2 separate regions of the Homo sapiens genome follow, and region 1 is linked to region 2. Evidence: fine-mapped expression QTL. A gene starts in region 2. The other region holds a variant in brackets. All regions are shown on one strand. Distances are between the middles of the regions.

Region 1 (2,908 bases), 36 kb before region 2:
CATCAGTTTATTTTAATTTTTTTGAGATGAAGTCTCGCTCTGTTGCCCAGGCAGTGTGGTGGCATGATCTTGGCTCACTGCAACCTCCACCTCCCGGGTTCAAGTGATTCTCCTGCCTCAGCCTCCTGAGCAGCGGGGATTACAGGAGCACGCCACCAGGCTTATAATTTTTGTATTTTTAGTAGAGATGGGGTTTTATCATGTTGGCCAGGCTGGTCTCAAACTCTTGACCTCAAGTGATCCACTTGCTTTGGCCTCCCAAAGTGTTGGGATTACAGGCGTAAGCCATCGCGCCTGGCAAAACATCAGTTTAAAAAAAAAATAGAAACATTGTTTTTCTTTTCTGCAATACCTTTTCCAGCCTCTAAAATTCTTCCATCAATAAACTCTGATAAGACTGTCTTGAAAAACTTGGAGAGGCAAGGCAAAACTTTATGAGATCTTTGCATTCTCCTTCTAACAAGATGCCACCCAGATGTGCTCCTTGTCTGGGACATGGCTGGATATCAAATGGGTCTGTCTGAGTCTGGAGACCAGAAGGTAGAGATGGCTACAGAATCCAGTATGCTGGTCCTTAAGGTCTTCTGTTTTTTTCAGACAGGTTCTTTTATAATGCTGGCTAGGGCACAGATGTACGTCACTCAGATGGTCCCACTACCAAGAGCACTGCTATATACTGCTGCTAGACACAAACTAGAAAAGACACAATGATAATGCACAGGCCTGGACCATCTGCCTCATGCAGGGGAGTCTGATCTCTCAGTGAAATCTGTTTTTGAGGGGAGTTTTGTGGAATACTTTTTTTTTCCTTCCCTTTTTCTTTTTTGTAGAATATTTAAAACATTCTATAATAAGCATGTATTTTTTGGTATTCAGAAAAAATAACTTAAAGAAAACAACCACCAGAGATGTGACTGCACAGTATTGTGAACATACTAAAAACCACTGTAGCTGGGTGTAGTAGCATGTGCCTGTAGTCCCAGTCACTTGGGAAGCAGAGGCAGGAGGATCACTTAAGCCTAGGAATTCAAGGCTGGCCTGGGCAATACAGCAAGAACCCATCTGTTAAAAACAAAACTCCACTGAATGGTACACTTAAAAAATGACTTTTTTTTTTTTTTTTTTTTTTTAAAGAAACAGGGTCTTGCTCTGTTGCCCAAACTGGTCTCAAACTCCCAGCCTCAAGCAATCCTCCTGCCTCAGTCTCCCAAAGTGATGGGAATCCAGTTGTGAGTCACCAGGACCAGGCCAAATAATTACATTTATGTTATGTGAATTATATTTAAAA[A/T]TTTTTTTTTTTTTTGAGACAGAGTCTAGCTCTGTTGCCCAGGCTGGAGTGCAGTAGTGCAATCTCGGCTCATTGCAACCTCTGCCTCCTGGGTTCAAGCGATTCTCCTGCCTCAGCCTCCCGAGTAGCTGGGATTACAGGCGCCTGCCACCATGCCCAGCTAATTTTTGTATTTTTAGTAGAGACAGGGTTTCACTGTGTTGGCCAGGCTGGTCTCGAACTCCTGACCTTGTGATCCACCCGCCTTGGCCTCCCAAAGTGCTGGGATTACATGCGTAAGCCACTGCACCTGGCCTTTAAAATGTTTTTACAAATCAAACTATTTGAGGTTTTACGGTTTTTACCTTTCTGGTTAATTTCTGGTGTATTGTCTGATGTAGAAGACAGATTTGGGGTTCTCTTCTGGCACCTCCCACAAAACCTATTACAGAAGCATCTTATACAAATGTAACCCAACAATCAGGAACATGAAAAAAGGCTGCAAACTTTCCTTTTCTTTCTTTTTTATTTTTTGAGACAGGGTCTGGCTCTGCTGCCCAGGCTGGAGTAGACTGGCACGATCTTGGCTCAATGTAACCCCCACCTCCGGGGCTCAAGTGATTCTCCTGCTTCAGCCTCCTGAGTAGCTGGGACCACAGGCACGCACCACCACGCATGGCTAATTTTTTTACTAAATATTTTTTTGTGGAGATGAGGTTTCACCATGTTGCCCAAGTTGTTCTTGAACTTCTGAGCTCAACTGATCTGCCCGTCTCAGCCTCCCAAAGTGCAAGGATTATAGGCATGAGCCACCATCTGGGCCTAAACTTTCCTTTTCAACAGATGCTATCAAAATGTTTGCTAAAGAAACCCAGGGTTTGGAATCTCCAAAGAGATTCTCACCTTCCTCCATTAAATCGGTTCTCATGAAAACTCAGTGTTCTCCTCCAACATGAGAAAAGGCAGTATTTCCACCAGAGGAAAAAACTGACTTACTCTTAGGAGAGAAAACAGAGGATGTCTCAGCATCAACTCCCTAGGCAAAGTAAAGGCTGCCTCCCACTCAGTCCATGACTGGTTCTGTCAAGGACACAGGGATCTAAAAGGTGGCTGTGCACAAATACACTGGACACCCTCAGGTACTTCTGACTTCATGGAGCTTTTCCAGCAGGACTGAGAGCTCCATACATTCTAGAAGCAGAGATGACTGGGGACCACATGCATTGGACATCCATCTTCATTGTGAAAGCAGGGATGACCAATGACTGCACTTCTTGGCCTCTACCCAGGCCTCCAATAACTGAGGACCTGACCTAAAAGGAGAAACCCCTTGAATACAGCAGGAAACTGAGCAGGAGTCAGTCTGGCTGTATCCCACCCCTGCACAGCAAGAACCAACAGCAAGCTACCACTGTCACGTAAAACCTAATCAGGCCAGGCGCAGTGGCTCATGCCTGTAATCCCAGCACTTTGGGAGGCCAAGGTGGGTGGGTCACCTGAGATCAGGAGTTCGAGACCAGCCTGGCCAACATAGTGAAACCCCGTCTCTACTAAAAATACAAAAATTAGCTGGGTGTGGTGGTGCAGGCCTGTAGTCCCAGCTACTTGGGAGGCTGGGGCATGAGAATCGCTTGAACCTGG
Region 2 (2,908 bases):
GCGTGATGGCGCGTGCCTGTAATATCAGCTACTTGGGAGGCTGAGGCAGGAGAATCACTTGAACCCAGGAAGGCAGAGGTTGCAGTGAGCCGAGATCGCGCCACAGCACTCCAGCCTGGGCGACAGAGACTCCATCTCAAACAAGACAACAACAACAAAAAATGAGCATACAGTGATCTTTATTCAACTTCCCAAGATCCAGTCCTCAGCTAATTTACAAAACTACAATAGTGTTACATACTCTCCTAGGTCTACACGGCAAAGTACAGTTTGACTGTTGCAACTAGTGCTGCCTTACAAAAAAAGGCTTTATCCCATGCCACCCATCCTAAACCCAGCTGTTCAGAGCAGTGTACCTGGAAATCAGCCTCAAAGTACGGACTGCAAGACAAGGCACAAGGAAACCCTAACACGAAGTCCTATGTTCTGGGCAAAGGGATGGGGATGGCAGGTGGGACGCACCCAGGTCAGGGCGAGGGCGCGGCAAGTTTTCTATTAAATCTCAGTAGATTACAACTCATATCCAATGTCTGATATATTTTCGAGGGAAAATGGTGCTTGAAAGATGTTTCTACGAGAAATAAGCTTCATCTCGGTCAATCTGTTCGACCCAACTTCTGGCAGCAGGTGTGGGGGCGGCGCCAAGGTCTGCGCGGTAATCCAAACAGGCAGTCCCACCCAGGGCCACCCCAAAGCCAGATGCTCCGACGCAACTCGAGCAGGCCACACTGTCTTTCGGACAAAGCGACGCGGTCCTCACAGGCGGGAAGGAGAGTGCGTCCCGGTCGGGAAGGACGCCGTCGGAGAGCGGCCTAACCACGTGACGCCCGCGGCGACCTTGGGGGTCACCCCTGCGGACGCACCGCCCTCTCCCTCACATCCGCCGCCGCGCCCGCCCCCCGCTCGCCCACCGCCAATGGCGCGTCGCTCCGCGCCCCGCGCGACCTCGGAGCCCGCCCGTACCCGCCAATCTCCGCCCGCCGGGCAGGCCCCGCGGCTCCATTGGCTGCCACGGCCATCCATCAGGTCCCGTCCCTCCTACCACCCTCCGTGAGCCCCACTCCATCCAGCTCCACTCCCCTGTCACCGCGGCGCCCGCAGCACCAAGGGCGCGGCGGCCTCCCCCTTTACCGCGATCTCCAACCCCGGGCCGCCAAGCGCCGCGACACCCGGCACTGGGACGGGCGCGGCGACAGCGCACGGTTACCTGTCTCCGGCTCAGCTCCACCCGAATGAGGCGCCGACACCCCACTCCGGGGCTCCAAACTCTCGGCCCCGCCCCGGCGTATGGCGTCAACACGTAGCCCTCCCCTGGAGAAGAATGCCCTCCCCTCTTACAGAGGACCGATTCGTGACGTCACAGAGCCGCGCCGGGCGTCACAGCGCCGACTGCGCAGTTGCAGAAGCCAGGGCCAGCTGGAGCCCAGCTGTTTGCTCCGCTAGAGAGATGAGGTTGTCTATGGACTTCCAGCGGCTTCTGCTATCATAAATAATTTCTGAAAGTAAGATATCTCTAGCGCCTGGTAGGAACCTATCAAGAGATAGTTGGGTTGATGTGAAACTTAGCGCACAAAAATAAACAATTTGAATAACAGAATCTCCGTTTTTGAGATTGTCCTGGGTCAGGCTTTGTGACAAGCGCTTCACCGGCGCTATTGTGTAACAATCTGTGAGACAGGTGTTCCTATCCCCGGTCTACAAATGACAGTTGGCAGTGCTGGGATCTTGCCCGGGATCTTGCCTGGGTTTTCTTGACTTTAGAGCTACCTATCAAAGATAAAACGTGGCTAATTAACCTGTCACAACCTGTTGATTGTAAGATGTTCCCTATTTTAAAGTATTAAAATTTGGGGAAAGGCCGGGCGCGGTGGCTCACGCCTGTAATCCCAGTACTTTGGGAGGCCGAAGCGGGCGGATCACTTGAGGTCAGGAGTTCGAGACCAGCTTGACCAACATGGGGAAACCCCGTCTCTACTAAAAATACAAAAATTAGCTGGGCGTGGTGGCGATCCCAGCTACTCGGGAGGCTGAGGCAGGAGAGTCGCTAGAACCCGGGAGACGGAGGTTGCGGTGTGCCGAGATCGTGCCATTGCACTCCAGCCTGGGCAACAAGAGCGAAAATCCGTCTCAAAAAACAAACAAAAAAAGGGGGCGTATAAGTGCTTATTATAGAACAAAGTTAGGGTAATGTATGTGACAAGGATCTAGAGACTGGAAGAGGTGAAGAGACCAAGGAACAAACTTCTGTATTCTTTTTTCCTTTTTTTTTTTTAAATAAATTACGGTAAAAATGTATGTACTAAACATTTGCAGCTGGGTGCAGTGGCTCACGCTTGTAATCCCAGCACTTCGGGAGGTGGAGGCGGGAGGATCGCTTGAGCTCAGGAGTTCCAGATCAGCCTGGGGAACAGAGCAAGATCTCATTTCTACTAAAAAATCAAGAAAATTAGCCAGGTGTAGTGGCACTCACCTGTAGTCTCAGCTAATTGGGAGGCTGAGGCAGGAGGATCTCTTGAGCCTGAGAGATTGAGGCTGCAGTGAGCTATGATTGTACCACTGCACTCCAGCCTGGGCCAGAGAGCAAGATACTGTCTTTTTTTTTTTAATGCCATTTTAACCATTTTTAGGTGTATAACTCAGTGGCATTAATTACATTCACAATATTATGCAACCGTCACCACTCAATTTCCAAAACTTTTTCATCACCTGAAACAGCAACTCTGTAACCATTAAGCAATAACTTCCTATTTCCCCTTCTCCTCCTGTCCTTCTCTCCTTTGGTAACCTCTATTATACGGTCTCTATACATTTGATTACTCAATTACTTTATGTGGGTGAAATCATAATGTATATGTCCTTTTGTGTCCACCTTATTTCATTGAGCATGAGGTTGTCAAGGTTTATCTGT

What was found. PIP is the estimated chance that this variant, and not a neighbour inherited with it, causes the effect. A credible set is the group of variants that fine-mapping cannot tell apart.
Region 1: its variant is the best candidate, but not a certain one, in a credible set for the expression of OGDH in whole blood (TOPMed, PIP 0.71).

Annotation. Positions count from the first base shown.
Region 1 is chr7:44,641,317-44,644,224 of GRCh38, reverse strand. All of the region lies in intron 2 of OGDH (oxoglutarate dehydrogenase), which reads right to left. Among named protein-coding and RNA genes, the nearest start is that of OGDH, 36 kb to the right of the region's middle. The variant A/T (reference allele first, on the strand shown) is at 1,289.
Region 2 is chr7:44,604,953-44,607,860 of GRCh38, reverse strand. It overlaps OGDH (oxoglutarate dehydrogenase), which reads right to left and starts at 1,234. Exons shown (of 23, transcript NM_002541.4): 1 at 1,208-1,234. RefSeq lists enhancers at 245-584, 260-823, 1,075-1,674 and a silencer at 805-1,034.